Regions from separate parts of the Homo sapiens genome. Here region 2 is linked to region 1. The links come from fine-mapping of genetic effects on gene expression. A gene starts in region 1. The other region holds a variant in brackets. All regions are shown on one strand. Distances are between the middles of the regions.

The links.
Region 2: its variant is fine-mapped to the expression of LINC01359 in whole blood (INTERVAL, PIP above 0.99).

Annotation. Positions count from the first base shown.
Region 1 is chr1:64,996,404-65,006,899 of GRCh38, forward strand. LINC01359 (long intergenic non-protein coding RNA 1359) reads right to left here and starts at 6,073. Exons shown (of 7, transcript NR_119383.1): 1 at 5,926-6,073. It also overlaps a transcript of JAK1 not described here. RefSeq lists an enhancer at 6,089-6,168 and a silencer at 6,299-6,438.
Region 2 is chr1:65,051,072-65,061,567 of GRCh38, forward strand. It overlaps MIR3671 (microRNA 3671), which reads right to left and starts at 6,771; the gene lies at 6,684-6,771. MIR101-1 (microRNA 101-1) reads right to left here and starts at 7,437; the gene lies at 7,363-7,437. It also overlaps a transcript of JAK1 not described here. The variant C/T (reference allele first, on the strand shown) is at 4,414.

The DNA of each region.
Region 1 (10,496 bases):
CTATATTTCCCCATATTATAGATACAGTGATATTTCCCGAATTAAAAATGTAGACACATAATCTGATAATTACATTTGTAGAGAAAAAGAAACAAATCTAAAATTGGACTTTTCCTTCCACATTTGTGGTTATTGTATCTAACAGATACATTCTAACAAAATGCATTCTGCATCATATAAATACAATACACATGGGTTGATTGGTGGGTTAATTGCTTAGTCTGTTTAGAAGAGAGATTGTAAACTTATACAGATCAAATATGACCTGCGGTGATTTTTTCCCAGCACATTAAAACATTTTTTAAACTGTTTGCCAACACTTAAAAATTGCTGAATTCACATAAAAATCAGGCTACACTTGAGAAATCTGAAGAACACCGGATTTTTAGACATCAGCTCAAGCTGAAGCTCGCCTAAGACAGGAAAATCTAACAAAGCTGCAAACCCCAAAGGGGCTGCACTTCCAGTGCAATGATGAACAGGAAAGAAACCTGCTGCACAGAAAGGAGCAAGGAAACTTGCCCATCTGTACCTTGGCATTTGGTAGAGGAAATATGTATATTTCCTCTTTCAATAATTTATATCCACAGTTGATACTGTCATACACATGGGTTTGCAGGTCAAGTCACCCACTTACATAGTTAAAAACAAAAACAAACAAAAAATCAAGGAGAGAGATTAATTTGGTCCTGAGTAAGTAGTTAACCCCAGGCAACTAGTAAAAGTAAACACAAATAATCTCTGAATGAAGGTAACGTCAATCTATGCCTCAAGTAATTTCTACGGATAAAATCCAAGGAATATAAACCCAGAGTCAAAATCCACAAAACATAAAAGTAAACGGCACAATGGGTAAAAACTAGAAGGAGGAGATGGTAAAAATCATACATGCAGTCTTCAAATGTAGAATGACAAGACATAGAATATAAAATAAGAATGTTTAATATTAACTCACATGACAAATATTATTTGAATACCTTCTATTTGCCAGGTATTGTTCTAAGCCTTAAGGATAAAGTGGCTAACAAAATAAACACCCTTGCTTTAAAGAAGTTTACATTTTAAGAAGGGGTGACAAATTACTTAATAAAAGATGTAGGATGGTAGGTGGTTAAAAAAAATCTAGAAGAGAGATACAGAGTATTATAATATAGGATATTTCACTGTCCTTAGAGCCACGCTGGGATTAGCTTTGGGTATGAGAGATAACCTAGGGGTCCTGGACTTTTTGTGTGACTGACATAAACAAGGACAACGGCATAATGGGTTTATAATGGTTGCAGAGAATGGTGGTATGAGTGTGGGAGTGTGGGGCTGTCGGGGACTGTTGTGGGGAGGAGTCTCTTCTCCAGAACATACAGAGTCCTGGGCCTCCCTCTTCATTCTTGACAATGCTTATGTGAAGGATAGAGAAGGAATGTTCTTCTCCAAGGCACAGGTTACCCCAGGGATCCCTCTTGTTTCCTGCTGATGGAAGCCCAGAGCCACAAGACGAGACAGCCTCTCATCTTATCTTTAAAACTTTTGTTTCAAGAAATAAAAGCCTGTAAATATGGTGAAGAAACAAATGACTATACAAACTTTTCCAAACAGATCTGAAATAGAACTTCTAGAAATAGAACAAAAAGATAGAAATTAAAAAGTCAAACAAGTTAAAAAGAAGATTGGATACAGCTGGAGAAAAAACTCATGAACTGGAAGTCAGATCCTAAAAAACTGTCCTAAATGCAGTCCAAAGAGTATGAAGAGATGCAAAATATGAAAGAGAGATTACAAGACTTGGATTATATATTAGAATGTCTAATACACATGTAATCACAATTCTCCAAAGAGATAGAGAAAATGAGGGAGAGGAAATAGTAAAAGAGACAACAGCTGGGAATTTCCAAGCATTGTTGAAAGTAATTACCATACTTACATGGTCACAGCAGGCATTTGAGTTTTTAACCCTTTGTACAAGTTTTTCTTAAGCTACCGTCCAGAAAAATGTCTTTCATTGAGTACTACTTTATAGTTTACAAAAGGCTTTCACATACTAAAATCTATGTAACATGTTTTTAGACTCATTGAAAGTCTTGGATTTGTTTTCCTATTACAACAGGAAACTGAAGTAATCTCTGGCCGTAAGATTAGTATTAAAGCCATTCTCTTTTAAGTGGAAAAAGAGAAGAGGATGTTGATATGGTTTGGCTGTGTCCCCACCCAAATCTCATCTTGAATTCCCATGTGTCATGGGAGGAACCCAGTGATAATTAAATCATGGGGGCGGGTCTTTTCCATGCTATTCTTGTGATAGTGAATAAGTCTCAGGAGATCTGATGGTTTTAAAAATGGGAGTTTCCCTGCACAAGCTCTCTCTTTGCCTGCTGCCGTCCATGTAAGATGTGACTTGTTCCTCCTTGCCTTCCACCATGATTGTGAGGCCTCCCCAGCCATGTGGAACTTTGAGACCAACTAAAACTTCTTCCTTTTGTAAATTGCCCAGTTTCAGGTATGTCTTTATCAGCCACGTGAAAATGGACTAATACAGATGTTTAGGACCAAACTTAACTAACAATAACTACAGCACTTAAGTATGATGAACATGGTAGTAAATTTGATTCATTTTTCTGCAGTTTTCATTTCAATACTCATTTGGGATATTTCCCTTGTAAATCTTCCTATCTTTTGTTTTCTCTCCTCAGGAATGATTTTTGGGGTCCACAGAAGACAGTGCCCTTCACTGGGTTAAGTGATGAGATCTAATTTCATCATGACCTTGAAGGCTCTATAAATCACTTTCTCCTGTTGCTATGTGAACAAAGTCCAAACCTTCTCAGCATGACATAATAGGCTGTTTCTTTGCCATATGTCACTGCCCTCCTTCTCAGCTCTACTCTCAGTGCAAGCACATAAGATAACTCACATGTGTTCATTTATTTGAACACATACCTGGGCACCTTGTTTCTGTATAGGACATTCCCCTTGGCTCTCTCTTTGCCTTTCTCATCCTTCCTCAGTACTCCCCATTAACTTCCTCTCACTTCTCAATCTGTTGGTCTCAAGAAAGTCAGGCTGGGTGCAAAGGCTCATGGCTGTAATCCTAGCACTTTAGGAGGCCAAAGTGGGAGGATGGCTTGAGCCCAGGAGCTCGAGACCAGCCTGGGCAACATAGGGAGACTCCATCTCTACAATAGAAAAAATTAACTGGGTGTGGTGGCACATGCCTGTGGTCCCAGCTTCTTGGGAGGCTGAAGCAGGAGGATCACTTAAGCCAGGGAGGTCAAGGCTGCAGTGAGCCATGATCACACCATTGCACTCCAGCCTGGGCAACAGAGTGAGACCCTCTCTTTAAAAAAAAAAAAAAAAAAAGTCTACTGGTTCTTCAGGATCCTCCCCAAACTGGGTGGGCACCTGGCTGCCCAAAGCTTTCTCTAACAGTATCTACGGCACCTTGAACTACAGTGTATTTTTTTCAGGTCTGTGCTATAATGTATCCATCTCTATATTCTGGCATGTCTGGCATGTGATGGGCACTCAAGCAATTTTTGGTAAATAAACATTATAGAAAGTCTGGGAAAATACTGGGGGTTGGGGGAGAGAATCATAAGTTTTTTTTTTTTTTTTAAGATGGAGTCTCACTCTGTCAACAGGCTGGAGTGCAGTGGCACGATCTTGGGTCACTGCAACCTCTGACTCCCTGGTTCAAGCGATTCTCCTCCCTCAGCCTCCCGAGTAGCTGGGATTACAGGCATGTGTCACCATGCCCAGCTAATTTTGTATTTTTAGTAGAGACGGGTTTTACCATGTTGGGCAGGATGGTCTTGATCTTCTGACCTCATGATCCGCCCGCCTTGGCCATCGTAAGTCTTAAAAGATCATTGTAGGGCAATCCTTATTCCTGAACCCAGCAATACCACTTCCAGAAAATCTACCCATGCAAATAATTGAGAATGTGTTCAGGTATAGTTACAGCCTGGCAAGATGAGTCCTGCCTGTAATCCCAGATACTTGGGAGGCTGAGGTGGGAGGATCACCTGAGTCCAGGAGGTCAAGGCTGCAGTGAGCCATGATTGTGCCACTGCACTACAGCTTGGGTGAGAGAGACCCCATCTCTTAAAAAAAAAAAAAATAACTACAAAGCTGCACACTCCAGTCCTGTTTAAATAGCAATACTTCCGGACACAATTTTTAAGTTATTCAATAGGGCTTTGGTTAAATAAATGTACAATGGAATACGAAGTAGTGATTTAAAAACACGTATGGAAAATATTTTTCCATGATATTTGATTCAAAGGAAAAAGGTGACAAAGCATTGTGTTCGATGTGATTACATATAATGCTATACATCAGATTGTTAACAGTGGTTTTCTGGGTGGTGGGATTTCCATTTATTTTCTGATTCTGGAAAAAATCTGATTTTTCTGCAATGAATAATAATTATTTTTGTGATTTTTAAAAAGGAGGGTTTTTTTTTTGGTGGGGGGGCGGTTGGATTTTTGTTTTGTTTTGTTTTTGAGATGGGGTCTCACTCTGTGGCCCAGGCTGGAGTGCGGTGGCGCCATGGAAGTTTTTGTTTCTAAAGGGTCCTTTCCTTTGGAGCTCCAACTCTACTAAGAGGCCATTCATATTCCCAACATTCCAGGGTGCCCAAAGGAAAGACCTGGCCAGTTATTTCAGCATCAATTCACAAAATGGGGCGTTGGAAGGGGAAAAACAGCTGCTCTAGTTGGGCAGTGATTATTAAACCCCTCCCAAAAATGGAGTGGACAATTTCCAAGATCTCATCATGTTAGAAAACTTTCATTCGCCGATTTCACTTTTCAAGTGAATCCTAAAGCCTGTTTCCTTAATCTTCATAATTTTGGACATTCCACAGCCCGACCCACGCGTTTATCTTTCACTGGGCTGCAGTGATTCCCCTTGTTACCAAAAGGGGCCCAGCCTCCGCCAGCAGAGGCCTCCTGCGGAGCTGGGGGCGGGACCTCTGGGCTGGGTCCCCCTCTCCCTGTGCGCTGGCTGGCGGCGAGTGCAGTGACTGATTTCCTCTGCTCGCCTTCCCGGAGGTCCCCACCCACGCCACTGCCAACGCTCGGAGGAAGTCACGTTCAGGCCCCAGAGCTGGTCTGAATCTTCCAGGAGGAAAAGAGGGGGTGCATGTGTGCGTGTGTGTGTGGTAGTGTGTGTGTTGTATGTCTAAGAGGTAGCAAGTGTGTTTGTGTGCGTGATATGTGTGTTTGAGAGGCAGCAAATGTGTGTGTTGTATGTGTGTTTGAGAGGTAGAAAGTGTGTGTGTGGGGGGGGGGGTATGTGTGCCTGAAAGGCAGCAAGTGTGTGTGCGTGTGGTATGTGTGTTTGAGGGGCAGCAAGTGTTTGAGTGTGAGTGTGTGGTATGTGTGTTTGAGGGGTAGCAGGAACCCTAGCTTGGTGTCTGTCAGTAACTAGATGGTGATGCAGGTAAGTGATTTTCCCGTTGAGTGGATTAAATTCCTAGTCTGTCAGAGAGGGTGTTGACCTAGAATGACTGCGCAGGTCTCCTGTCCAGTGTTAAGGAGCGTGAGTGCCCTGATGTCCCCAGGAGTGCTGCAAAAAGAGCAAAATGGCATATATCAGGCGTCCCCGAGATGCTGGCATCTATGTTAAAACTATCTTATTTCATCTTCCAACTACTCCTTACAATAGGTGCCCTGATCCCAATACAAGATTGAAAACTGAGGCTCAGAGTCTGCGGTATGCTGTCCAATATGTATGTATACACAAACACACACACGTATATACGTATGTTTGTGTGTATATACGTATGTGTATATATGCACATATATGGGTGTGTATGTATATATTTTACAGCCCATTTGGGCAAATGAGTGAGCCCCAGCCAGAAGCAAGCGCCCCCGCTGCCCCTGGGCAGTGGGCTCGGTACCGCCACGCACCCGTCCTATGTGTTACCTGGTCGCTGCTCACTGGAGTGAAAGCCATTTAGTGGCTGATCCAAGGGAAGTATGAGCTAGTGGCATGTCGAGACAAACCTGGATTTGATTCGCAGCTCTGCCTTCTGTTTGACTACAAGCAAGTAACAAGCTTTTGGAGCCTGTTTCCTCACTTCTAAGTGACGCTAATTATAGTATGTACATCACAAGGATAGTGACATAAGTGATGACTGTGACCAAACTTGGATCACCAAGCCTGCACCCAGGGAGCGCTCAGTAACGCAGCGCTGAGGAGTAGGCCACCCCGGAGGGCTCCAGGTTTCAGCGCAGGCTTCCGCGGAGCCAGCTGGATGCGTCACCATCCGAAAGTGCGAGCCTGGCCGGCGGCGGCGGAGGCGGGGGCACCGCGCAGTTGGAAGCCCGGGCGCTCTTACCGAAAGCGCGAGCCCGGACTTCCCCGCCACGATCGATGTGGCCAGTCTGCGCCTGCCGCAGTTCCCGCTCGCACCCCGGCCCCTCGCAGAGTCCCAGGAAAGCGCTGTGGCGGGCGGGCAGTCTCTGCCCCCGGGAGGGGACGCACGCACGCGCTGCTCCTTCCAGGTCCCGGCGGGGAAGCGATGCTTTCTTGGCCCGGGCTTGGGGCCAGCGGGAACCGGGCTGTCCGGCCGCGCCGTCGCGCCTCGCACGGCGTGAGACAACCTAGCTTTTTTTTTTTTTTTTTTTTTAAGAAAAGCATTGGCACCGCAGCAGCCTCCCCCGCTTCTTCCCTACTAGGACGCCCGCCTGACTCGCCCCATTGCACAATTCTTACCGTGGAACAGCCGCGTGACTCGGCGGGAGCCCAAAAGTTTCCCAGGTTTCCTCAGCCTAGAAAAGCGTGGGTGGGTGTCCCGGCCTGGCTCCAGGCGCCCTTTAAGTTGTATTTCTTCGGGTAACTGGGTTGCCCTTTAAAATGTGGAGATTGTCCTTTAGAAAGAAAGAAAATCTCACGAGCTCGCTGGCCCGCCAGGTCTAGGTTGGCGCCGGGTGACTGCAATGAAACGCGTTTCTTTTCCCATGTACATTTTCAGACGGTAAAAGTGTTTCGATTTGTTTGGGGGAGAAGTCAGGCGCTGGTTTTAAAGGAGGAAGGGGAATGATGCTTAAAAGCAGAGACACGATTTGGAGCTCTCCAAGAATCATAGTGTTTATTAACAATGATTGTGCTTAGTAGACACTGAGAAAATATCGAACGAATGAGTATTTGGAGGAGGGATTTAAATGGGTGTCTATAGGCCAACGCTTTCATTCTGCTGATGAGAAAACCTAGAGGTTAAGTGATTTGCCCAAAGTCACCTAGCTAATTAATGTGGAAGGCAGGAATGGAATCTGTCTCGTTTTGACTCCAAATTCTTGTTATGAGATGGGTGCGTTTTCCCCTCTTTATGAAAAAAAAAAATGCCTTCTGTAGTAATCTCTGTAAAGCCTTACTCCACTCCCTCTGTCTACGCATCTAAAGCAAACATACAAAACAAAAAAGAAAACAGCAATCCCCAAATGCAATCCATGCACTCAAATAGGCTAAATTTGGCAATGCCAAAACAATATATTAACAAGGCATTTTAGTTCTTATTCCTATAAATAACACTTTTTTGTTTTGTTTTGTTTTTTGAGACGTATTCTCGCTCTGTCGCCCAGGCTGGAGTGCAGCGGCGCGATCTCAGCTCATGGCAACCTCTGCCTCCTGGGATCAACTGACTCTCCTGCCTCAGCCTCCCGAGTAGCTGGGATTACAAGTGTGCACCACCATGCCTGGCTAATTTTTGTATTTTAGTAGAGACGGGGTTTCACCATGTTGGCCAGGCTGGTTTCAAATTCCTGACCTCAGGTGATCCACCCGCCTCAGCCTCCCAAAGTGCTGGGATTACAGGAATAAGCCAACCTGCCTAGCCAATAGTACTTTCTTATTCACACAAAATATGTGAAGAAAAGGAGGAAGAGGAGGAGGAGGAAAAACAGAATAAGCAAAACAGTGCTTCTCCAAGATGATATGGAAAATACCAAGCTCCCACTAACCTTACTTTTGTAAGTAAGGTGTTTGGTGCTCTGCATAGAAACTGCTGGACTCGTGAGTGACCATCAGGGTTGATCTAAGATTGTCAGTTATTTCACTCAGGCTTTGACTGGATTTGTTGCTCATCTTTCAGAATAGACAGATGCAATCTGTGCAAACACAAGGGACTTCAATGACAATCTTGCAAATAGCTAGACAGCTTTTGTCTTTGACGTTTCTAGGCTGACCAACTATACCAAATGTCTGATTTAGGAACCAAAATTGCAAAACAAGTAGATGTGAAGATCAAAGGAATCAAGACTATAAGTAGGGATTATGACTAAAAATTCTTTTACGTGTTGTCTGTGGTGTTTCCACAATAATAATTACAATGTGGTTATAATAATATAATCCAAGTACAACTTCTTATCCAGGAAGAAGCTGGGACTTCCAGTGATGAGCAGACCAGAAGACCAAATTGTGAAATGTCTCATTTCAGCCAAATACCTTCTGAAATGGAGACAATTCTCATATTTCACTCTGCTATCTTCACTACCCTTTATTTCTGATATCGTGAAGGTGGGGATGTATACTAATGTCTAAAAATTTTTGAAATTCTAAGAGGCTAAATAGAATCTGCTAATTTTAGTTTGATAATCCACAATATTCCTGAAATCAAAGCATCATCTCCTATATTTTTCCCATACTGTGATTTCTAGTTTGTCATTATACCAGGCTACTGAATCTGAACTCAAGAAACAAACAAACAAACAAAAAGCATTTTATCAAACGAAAACTGTAAGACCAGCCTGGCCAACATGATGAAGCCCCATCTCTACTAAAAATACAAAAATTAGCAGGGCATGGTGGCACGCACCTGTAATCCCAGCTACTGGGGAGGCTGAGGCAGAAGAATCACTTGAACCCAGGAGGTGGAGGTTGCAGTAAGCCGAGATCACGCCATTGCTCTCTAGCTTGGGCAACAAGAGCAAAACGCCATCTCAAAAAAAAAAAAAAGTGAATTTTCTGTGGTTATTAGAGGCTGGGAAGGGTAGTGGGAGGGGAAGATGATGAGAGGTTACATAACAAATACAAATTTACAGCTGGATGAAAGGAATAAGTTCTAGTGTTCTATAGCACTATAGGGTGCATACGGGTAACAATAATTTAATGTATTTTTTTCCAAGAAGCTAGAAGAGAGAATTTTGAATGTTCACAACACAAATAAATGATATACTTTCAAGGTGATGGATATGCTAATTACCCAGATTTGATCATTGCACATTGTACACATGTACTGAAATATCATTGTATCCAATAAATATGTACTATGTCAACTAGAAATAAGAGGGAAAATCAATTAATTCTTTAAAAATATGTGAGTTATCTCCAATTGACCTATAGATTTGATTGCAATTCCAATTAAAATCCCAGCAGACTTTTTGATGGAACTTGACAACTTAATTATAAAATGTATATGGAAGTGCAAAGGGCCAAAATTAGCCAAGATGGTCTTGCAGAAGAATAAGTTATAATAAGATGATCTTGCAGAAGAATAAGTTGCCATTCCAGATATTAAAATTTTAAAAGTCATAATAATTAAGATAAATATAATTTGTGAACTCTCATGCTCAGACACCAGTCACACCCATTTTAGGACATCTCACAATTAAATGTTTCACTAACCTTGATGTCTACACTAATATAGAAGTAAACAATAAATATGGGCTTTCTAAGCAAGAGAGATTTTATCTCTTCACATAAGTGTGAAGAAATAATATAGAAGTATCTGTTCCTTATAATGGAGAGTTGAGTTTGGTAAACTCAAATTGTATTTGGTAAACTAATTGATGAATCTCTTAAGGTTTTTTGAATAGTTCACTATGTCATAAACTTAGCTTTCCCATCCACACAGACTGAAATATTTTACCAGACAGTATCTGAATTTGAAAATATCTTTAGGTCTAGGTGATTTGCTTCATGGCTTTTCTTTAATTAAAACGGCTTCTATTGTTTCTTCTTTTTTATTTTTTAAAGATGTGGTCTTACTCTTTTGCCCAGGCTGGAGTGCAGTGGTACTCTCATAGCTTACTGTAACCTTGAGCTCCTGGGTTCAAGGGATCGTCCTGCCTCAGCCTCCTGAGTAGGTAGGACTACAGGTGCTTGCCACAATGCATGGCTAATTCGTTTATTTTTTGTAGAGATGGGGTCTTGCTGTGTTGAACACCTGGCCTCAAATAATCCTCCTGTCTTGGCCTCCCAAAGCACTGGGATTACAGGTATAAACCACCACACCCAACCCAGTTTCCATTCTTAAAGGGGAACTCATATATCTGATTTCATATTTCCCTTTCTCAAACAGGGGTCTTATTTTGTTGTTTCAGTAGCAGGTACTTACCATATTAGCTGAACCTGTAGATTCACTGAATTACGCCTTGTATATAAAATATTTTATCTTCATAATATTTACGTTGATTCATCCAGACATTATTAAATAGTAATGCACTCAATTTAATAAGCTAAGTAAGTTTTGTCATCTGCCTTAAAAAGTTCCATCT
Region 2 (10,496 bases), 55 kb after region 1:
TAAAATTCTACCTGTAAATTATGCAGGGGATAAGCATTTATTTAACAGTAGCAAATTTTATGCTATTAGACTAGTGCTATTAGAATAGCTTGAGACCTGATAGGTATGTCAGGTTTTTTTTTTTTTAACAGAAATTAGTGAATGATGATAAGTGGAAAGATTCATGTCTCAATATACACTATATATTACACTAGACTTTTAAAATTAAAAATCCATAATTCCCTCTCCATAAAAAAGGGTGTCTATATTCCCAGTGATATGGTTTTCCAGAAATCTAGTCCCTATCAATATAAATCTGGGAATTTCTGCCATTCCAGAGGATCTAAGCTTCTACACTACCAATACTGCATACTAAGGTATCAGCAAATGTAGCACTCCTCCTCAGTCTGATGTCCACAGCACACCCGGGTTGATCACAGGTAGACCCAGAAAGGTGGTTACAGCACTCCTTCCTGCAGAGCCCAGATGTGGTCTCAGAAGTCTTCCCAGCAAAGTGCCCTAGACAGCTAGCCCCCAGTGGACCCCAAGATATTCCTGGTTCGAAGATACTCATTTTCAAATTGAAAAAAACCAATGGGAGTCTAAGTAATTTTTCTGCAATTTCATTTACAAAGATAGTAGCAAAAAAGTGAAAATACATTTTCTACAGACTAAATCGAAATGGTTCTCTATTTCTTCTCACCTTTTAACATCATCAATCTCCTCATAATCTCATGGAAAATAAAATACAGTAATAGTCTAAATGCACAAAGCAACGTATAATCAGCTTACTTTACTCCATTTCAATTATGTGCATTTTAACATATTTACATTAGAAGCATGTATTACAACCCGAAACCTTGTCAGACAGCTTAAAGAACCCAGCTGAGAATGTTCCATACCTGCTTGCTTATTTGTTTATTAAGAGACAGGGTCTGGCTGTTACCCAGGCTGGAGTGCAGTGGCACCATCCTAGCTCACTGCAGCATCAAACTCCTGGGCTCACGCAATCCTGCCTCAGCCTCCGGAAGAGCTGGGACTACAAGCATGCACCACCACGCCTGGCTATTTTTTTTTTTTTTTTTTTTTTGGTAGAGACAGTCTCACTTTGTTGCTCAGGCTGGTCTTGACCACTTTGGTCTCCCAGAGTACTGGGATCACAGATGTGAGCCACCACACCCAGCTCAGGCACACATTCTTGTACTTGGCAATCTCCTCCAGTGGGAATCCTTACACTCATCATGTCTTAAATATGAAAGAAAAATACAAAATGGACTTTTGGTGCCTCCCTTACCTAACTCGTTCATGCTTCATGAAGAATTCTTGTGGTTACAAATGATGACTAGGCCGGGCATGGTGGCTCACACCTGTAATCCCAGCACTTTGGGAGGCCGAGGCAGGTGGATCACCTGAGGTCGGCAGTTCAAGACCAGCCTGACCAACACGGTGAAACCCCGCCCCTACTAAAAATACAAAATCAGGCTGGGCGCAGTGGCTCATGCCTGTAATCCCAGCACCTTTGGGAGGCCGAGGCGGGCGGATCACGAGGTCAGGAGATCGAGACCATCCTGGCTAACACGATGAAATCCCATCTCTACTAAAAATACAAAAAACTTAGCCGGGTGTGGTGGTGGGTGCCTGTAGTTCCAGCTACTTGGGAGGCTGAGGCAGGAGAATGGCGTGAACCCGGGAGGCAGAGCTTGCAGTGAGCTGAGATCGCGCCACTGCACTCCAGCCTGGGCGACACTCCAGCCTGGGCAACACTCCAGTCTGGGCACTCCAGCCTGGGTGTCAGAGCGAGACTCCATCTCAAAAAAAAAAAAAAAAAAAATTAGCCAAGCATGGCGGCGCATGCCTGTAATCCCAGCTACTCAGGAGGCTGAGGCAGGAGAATCGCTGGGACCCGGGAGGCACAGGTTGCAGTGAGCCAAGATCACGCCATTGCACTCCAGCCTGGTGACAGAGCAAGACTCTTGTCTCAAAAAAAAAAAAAAAAAAAAAAAAAAGACTAGAGGCTGGGCACAGTGGCTCACGCCTGTAATCCCAGCACTTTGGGAGGCTGAGGTAGGCAGATCACCTGAGGTCAGGAGTTTGAGACCAGTCTGGTCAACATGGCGAAACCCCATCTCTAAGAAAAAATACAAAAATTAGCCAGGCATGGTGGCATATGCCTGTAGTCCCAGCTACTCGGGAGGCTGAGGCAGGAAAATCGCTTGACCCGGGAGGCGGAGGTTGCAATGAGGCAAGATTATGCCACTGCACTCCAACTGGGCGACAGAGCAAGACTCCGCCTCAAAAAAAACACAAAAACAAAAAACGATGACTGGTAATGGTGAAGACAAAGTATGAATAGAATGCACCTGTAAATATGAATAGAATGCACCTGTAAATATGAATGCAGAGTTTTAAAGAAGCAATTTTTAAAGGAAAAAAATCTCTGAAGTGTAAAAACGTAAGAGGTTTGTCTCAAAGAGCAACTGATCTGAAAGAAATATACTCACTTAAGAACAGGATAGACAAGCCAATGTGGTGGCCTAGGCCTGTAATCCCAGCACTTTGGGAGGCCAAAGCAGGAGGATTGCTTGAGCCCAGGAGTTCAAGATCAGCCTGAGAAACAGTGAAAACCTGTCTCTACAAAAAAATTTTTGAAAAATTAGCCGGGCATGGTGGTGCACACCCATAGTCTCAGCTAATCAGGAGGCTGAGGCTACAATGAGCCGTGATGGCACCACTGCACTCTAAGCCTGAGCTATGGAAGACCCTGTCTCCCCTGGGCCCCCCAAAACAGGATAAGGCAAGTTTGTGGCACACTTAAAATTGGGTGGTTATTCAGAGAAGCTAGAAATGTACTAGGCATAGCAAAATATTTGAAATTAGCGTGGCAGGCAAGAACAACAGCTAGCTGTCTGCTCCAACTCTGTGTAGTATGATCAAGGTAGAATACTGTGCAGGATCTGGTGGAGGTAGTCTAATGTTCCTAAAACTAAAATCTGATTTTAGTTTTAAAAGCATGACCCTAAGTGAGGACTTTGTGATGAAACAGATACGGTCCACAAATGAATCCTTTTTACCCACAGCTAATAAAACATGTGATCCCTTAGGGAAGGTTACTGCTATTTCCAGCCTCAATTATTATATTCTTATTATCAAATTTAAGCATGTAACAACAAATAGGAAAACTATTCGTGACAGACAGCAAGCTGTAGAATGCTCCTTTAATGAAGCTGCTAATACTTGACTTGTAAGACTAACCAGGATACTTTTTAAAACTATACTTAATACTATTATTTCATATATTGTATGTTTATATTTTAATAACATGCCACATTTAAATGCTGCTTTAGTCTCTTATATATATGATTTTATATATATGATTTCCCTAAGAAGGGAAAGGTCTGGGATTGGTGAATCCTCAAGTAATTTGAAACACTAAACATTAGGAGTATTTTAAATTACCTGAGGATTCACCAATCCCAGACCGTTCCCTTCTTATGAGTTCTTCCATAGGTTGTCAGAAATTCCTTTTCTGTTTAAAAAAACTCCAAAGAATTTCAGGAGTGGTAGCATAACTCCAAAGACGTGGGCAGTTGAGGCAACTGGAACAGGAAGAGGACCAGTGAGTTGCCCAATCTCACCAGAAAAGACATAAAGCCAGCAAGAGATGCCACATCAGGTGACTTCTTGTCCACGCCTTTTTCTCATTGTTTTTAATATTCATTGCTACTATATTGAGTTTTCTTTACATTTTACACAATTCTAAAGCTATGCTATGTTGGAAACCCTGGAAACATGTGTAAAGGACTTCAGATTAGAGAACTTGAAATGCATAAAGACATGGCAATTACATTTTAATTGCTTACTTGAAACAGCAGTTATCTTCACACGGAAAACTAAGGGAGAGCAGAGAAATCAACTAAATCCTGTTTTTGGCTTCAAGAGGGTTATTATCCTGAATCTCTTTTATTGTGGTAAAATACACATAAAATTTTCCATTTTTAGGTGTACATTGTGTCATTAAGCACATTCATGTTGTTGTGCAACTGCCATCATCCATCTCCAGAATTTTTTCATCTTCCCCAAATACAACTCCATTAAACACTAACTCTCCATTCCCCCCTCTCCCCCAGCTCCTGGCAACCATCAGTTCCTGGCTGTATGAATTTAACGACTCTAGGAGCCTCATGTGAGTGGAATCATAACAGTATACACCCTTTTATGTCTGGCTTATTTCACTTAGCATGGTATCTTCAAGGTTCATCCATGTTGTAGCATATGTCAGAATTTCCTTCCTTTTAAGGCTGAATCATATTCCAATGTAGGTATACACTACATTTCATTTATCTACTTATCCATCAATGGACACTTGGGTTGCTCCTTTTAGTTATTGTGAATCATGTTGCTATAAACATGGGTATACAATATCTGTCAGAGTGC[C/T]GCCTTTCACATCTTTTGGGTATGTATCCAGAAGTGGAAATGCTGGATTATACGGTATTCCTAGGTTTAATTGCAATCTTACCATCTCACATACTTCACCTAAACTGAAAAATGTAACGAATATACCAACCAAACACACACTGTGTTTTAAGCAAGGCAGTGGAAAAACCCCATTGGATCTGTCTTGCATCACTTCTCTCTTAACCTGCTGGAACACCTTACGTCTATGAAATGCCTTGAAGATGCCAAAGACCTCCAGGTCCAGGCAAGCTTCTGGAGCTCCTGCTGCAGACTAAGCCTCAGCCTTCTTGTTTAGAGGAAAGGGGACCCAGCATGACTCTGTCCGTAGTGCAGGGTGACTGCAAATGACACCCAACACTCAGTTCTTCAACACCCCACAGGCCTGGTTGTAGATTTTGAGGTCAAGGTTGGGTAAGTATAAAACCCAATGAATTTTTATAAAACTAGTAACGGGGAAAACAGGAAGATCAGGGAAGGTGGTGAAATCTTCACCAAGGCCAATGATTGCACAACACATAACTTCTTGAAGCACTTTTTTCCACCTGCTCAAACACTAAACATAAGGAGTGTTTCAAATTACTTGAGGATTCACCAATCCCTAACTTTCCCTTCCTAAAAGTTCTTCCAGAGTTTCTGTCAGAAATTCCTTTTAAGAAAACTCCAAAGAATTTCAGGAGTGGTAGCATAATAACTGGGGAGACCCCTCTCTCTAATTAATCAAAAACGTAGTGTAGCTTATATAGCTTAGAGAAATTGTGGATCTATGAGGACATGTGAAGGTACTGGGCTATAATGTGGTCAATGTGTCTGAAAAAATAACAGTTCTGGGCCAACCAAGTGTGGCTCAAGGGATCACTACTAAGAATGGTTCCTCTTTGGGTAGAGCAGAGGGAAGAGACACTAAAGGGAACTGCAATCACCAGCAAAGGAACACAGTGACCATCAATGTCTGAGGACTGGCACAATGAAGGATAAGAAAGAACCTCTCTGTACGAGGCCTACTCCCTTTCAGTTCCCTTTCTTCCCCATTGTGTCCCAGTGGAGGACCTGATAATACACCTGACCCATATCTAAGACATGCAGTTGGCAGGGCTGATAGTAGGTAAGGTTCACAGTATGTTAAAAAGTCACACGAGGCCGGGTGCAGTGGCTCAATGCCTGTAATCTCAGCACTTTGGGAGGCTGAGGGTAGGAGAATCACTTGAGGACAGGAGTTTGAAACCAGTTTGGGCAACATGGTGAAACACCATCTCTACCAAAAATACAAAATTACATGGGCATGGTGGTGCACACCTGTAATCCCAGCTACTCGGCAGGCTGAGGCATAAGGATCACTTGACCCCGGGAGGCAGAGGTTGCAGTGAACCAAGACTGAGCTACTGCACTCCAGCCTGACCGCAGACTGAGACTCTTTCTTTAAAAAAAAAAAAAAAAAAAAAAGTCACAAATGGTTTTTCTCTCCCTGGCCCCTCTTCTCTCTGTGGTAGGTAGGTTCAAATTACAGCCTAACCTCAGCCATCTCTGTTCTCTTTGCTCAAGCATATGGGTCACTGCTTTGGGTTCCTACACCAGTCAGACATCCACAGGCTCCCAGATACAGACATGAGCCTAGGATGAGGTAATATACCCGATTAGGCTCTGAGCCTAAAACACGTTCCATGAAATTACCTGAGCCTTCCTTGCACAGTACTGTGATCTAAGATCTAACACATAATCAAGTCATGCACTTTGTTTCTTATTTGCTATTGTTACATGTGTACAGTGTCCTTAGGAGTCTACAGGGAAGAGGGATAATTGGCAGAGATTGGCATTGGCAGAATCCTGGGTTCTCCAATAACCACCTTTCACCCCCAGCAGTACTCTCTAGAGTAAGATGGAGGTTGAAGATGTGTGCTGTTAAATTTCCTAATCCTGGCTGGGTATAGTGGCTCATGCCTGTAATCCCAGCACTTTGGGAGGCTGAGGTGGGAGAATCAATTAAGCTCAGGAGGTCAAGACCAGCCTTGGCAACATAGTGAACTCCTGTCTCTACTAAAAATTTGCAGGTGGGTGGCCTGAGCCTGTAGTCTCAGACTCGGGAGGTTGAGGTGGGAGGATTGCTTGAGCCTGGGAGATCAAGGTTGAAGTAAGCTATGATCATGCCACTGCACTCCCGTGTGGGCAACAAAAAAAAAATTTCCTAGTCTTTCATGCACGTGATGCTGGCTTGGTGTTTACAGCTTCGTATTCCTGAAATCGATATGTGCCAGATATCACTGCAGACTAGTCCTTATTTGATAGAAATAAAATAATTTACATTTTATTTTCATGTAAATGTGACAGCAGCAGCAATAACATAGGCATTCAGTAAATATTCTTTTGAATTAGGCCAGATCCTAAATATCCTGAAAGAAACATGACATGTCACTATCTACTCCTTCAAGACAAAGATATACTTTTTTTCTTTCTTCACTTCAGTAAGCTGGTCTACAATGATGGACTTTTATTTATGCAACAATTTCAATACTGTTCAACATATTGGGCTTTTTTTTTCTCCCTGTAAGTAGAATCTGATTTTGAAATCTAGTAGTGTACTGACAAGTGCCAAGCTGTTCTAATTAGGTTACCTTTCACATTTATAAAAATGGTACGAAGTTCTCTGAATACCATTCCAGAAATACTAATTCATACTTACCTATTTTCAGTCTCCTAAAGGTTCCAAAGATCTTAATATATGTTCACTCAGCACAACATGGCTGCACCAACAACTACCCCATGTTACAAAACAAGGCAAAGAGAAGCAGAATAACTCTCCCTATGCCCCGGGAGAAGTATGACAGAGGTGCAGGGTAAGAGGGTTTCTGGGTCCCAGCCACCTGTTTCACATTCCTCTTTCACCTTCTTTCTTCCTGGGTACGGTGAGGCTCCTCTGATGGAAGGTAAGATGGCTGCCATCCTTCAGTTATCACAGTACTGTACCTTTAGAATAGACAGCATCAGCACTGTGATAACTGAGCCAGGGCAGCCTGTCAGTCACTGTGTCGGTCAACGGCATCCTTTCTGGTGGCTGCATTACTCTCTCTGAAGGCTCCCCATGAAGTGAAGGACTAAAAGATCACCTTCTGGTTGGAGACGTGAGGAGGCAGAAGAAAAAGAAGGATCAGAGCCCAGCAAGTGGTGAGGCTGAAATATTAAAAGGCCCAGTTGAATTAAATTAGAATGAAAGATGAACACATGACTTATCCATATTAATGAGGATGAACAACTGCATGATTAGGTTTTCACTCTAATACATCAAATATGCAGTAAGCTTCCAGCATATTTCACAGCTTATCTCTTCCATGCATGGATTCACTGACTGTGCCTCCCTGACCTCAATCATTGATTTTTCATATATATACCGAGGAACTACTACGTTCTAAAGCCCTCTTCTAGATGTTCAGGAAATAAAGATAACTAAGACATGATTCCTGTCTTCAAAGTGCTCATAACCAAACATGACAATAATACTTCATATCTGCCAAACATTCAAAACTGCTCTATATGTTTTCTCATTTGGTTTTCACAAGACGCTATGGGGCTGGCAATGAATTATTCATTAATTCATCAAAAAAGGATTCTGGAAATAGATTAGATATTATTACCCCATTTTATAGGCAGAAAAAAAAAAAAAAAACTTAGGTGATTTGCCAGAGATCATATATTGCTAAGTTATGGCGAACCCATGTCCAGAACCATGTCAAATGAGTGAACACAGTGCTTTGTTTTCTCTACCCTACCCTAGCTGTCCAACTCCATCAACTGGATATTCAGTTTACACAAACAAAAGGATTTCTAAAAACATTTACTTTTTGTTTTAGTTTTCTCAGTAACTGAGATCATGAAGCAGAAGCTAGTGGGGCTTTATAATTAAGAAGAAAAATGCACATTAGCAAAAATGACTTTCATTCCTCTTGCTCTGAGTGCTAAGAATGTACTCAAATTAGTAACATTGATATTTTTCACTATAGTTTATGTCAATTCTATACCTATGGTGATACTGACAACCTTCAGAATACCTTTTTAAAAAGTAATAATAACATATACACATCACTTGCTTTTAAATTATCTGTACCTTTGAGACGTACTCTGAAGTCATTTTAGGGATGATTCTTCCTTTTAATAAAAAGTACAAAAGATTCTGAAATTGGAATTCAGGCATCAGAATATCAACTTATTAAAACCATGATTCACTTGGGTTTTTTCCATGTCATAAGGTTTCAAGTTATTTCAATATGAGTGGAACTTGACAGATATTTGAAAAATAATTATGTTTTCATTAGGCATTTGCTCAATTTCAAAGACTCATTATATGCATATTAGATATTAGCACTGTACTTCAAATAAGTCAGGTAGATGAATCAATTCTTTAGATCAGCAGAAGTCAGAAAATAAAAGTACAGTGAATCTAACTCAACTATTAACTTTACGTACTATGAAAATGACCTTATCTTCAGAAAAGCAACATCCAATGAAACAATCCACCTACACACAAATTAAAAACAACATTGCCTAAAATGCAAAAATATCTAAAAATTAAGGAGGTCATCATCTAGGTCTTAGCCAACTGTAATACAGAGTTGAAACACGAGAGGGCAACGAAGATTAAAGAAAAAAAAAAAATCACAGTTGGATCCCATAACCTAAGGTTCTTGGAAATAGTTGCACATTTTTACCCGAATTATAAACATCTGCTACGTGAACAAAGATACTGTGATTATTTTAGAGTAAAATTTTAGATAGCTGTTCCACGAAAAAGGATAAGATTATCAACTAATATTTCTTGACCACAATTCTGTCAGCTTTGGAAAACTGAATACTTACCCTGAAACACTGAAGGTTGGGTAAGTATGGAGACAAATAAATAATCCTGACATATTTGTAGTTATTAGACTGTTCTTCACCAAAATATTAGTGTGATTCAATGTCTAAATATGAAGTATAAAGACGAAGGAAGTGTACTGCAAAGTTGAAATTCACTCTACTAGCCATCACCAAAACCCATGCAACAACTAAACATTTTTGGTAAAGTAAAAGATACTTCCTTTTTCTCCTTATTTTTCTCTCATTTCATTTTTTTACCTAAATTAGAAAAAAAAAGAAGCCAAGCATCCCTAATAACAAGCAGCAAATTGTCATTATTCTGTGAATGGTTACTTAAATTAATATTCTCTCAGATTCTAAAGCAGTTTCAAGGAAGAAAAATATGGGTTTTCAAAATGGTATTTTTAAAATAAATGTTTCAAAAATGTGTCTTGCTTTTTCTTGAAAATGTTTATAAACGTGCATTTTTGAAAATTTAAATCCATCAGAAATATTTCTTCTTCAACATGTTTCGTCTAAGAACTGAACTGTCTAAATTTATAAACAAGTGACTACAGGTACTCATGCTACAGTAAGAAAAAATAACTGCATACTAAGGAAGAGAGAAAACAGTGATGTAAAATGCTTTCTTCCAGGACCCAAACTGATTTTAAACTACTTCTTCTATGTTAAAAATGATACAACTAGGAACAATTTCTTCATAACGCATATACCAAATATTATCTACAAAACCAGGCACTTATAGAAAACTGGCACACCAAAGAACTTTTAAAATAACGTGGAGTACAAGGCCAGGCATGGTGGCTCACACCTGTAATCTCAGCGCCTTAGGAGGCTGAGGCAGGAGGATTGCTGGAATCCAGGAGTTCAAGACCAGCCTGGGCAACATAGTGGAAGCCTGTCTCTACAAAAAATAGTATGAGCAGGGCCAGTAGTCCCAGCTACTTTGGAGGCTGAGGTGGGAGGATTGCTTGAACATGAAAGGCTGAGGCTGCCATGACTGCACCACTACACTCCAGCCTGGGTGACAAAGACCTTTTCTCAAGCGATCAATCAATGTGGAGTACAAATAAAAGCACAAAAAACATGCTACATCCCTCATATTTATAAACTAAGATGAAAATATTGTTTTAAACCTTTGAATATCTGATTATATATTAAATAACTGAAGGCACCGTAAGTTGTTGGCCAAGCAGAATATTTGAAAATACTTTTAAACT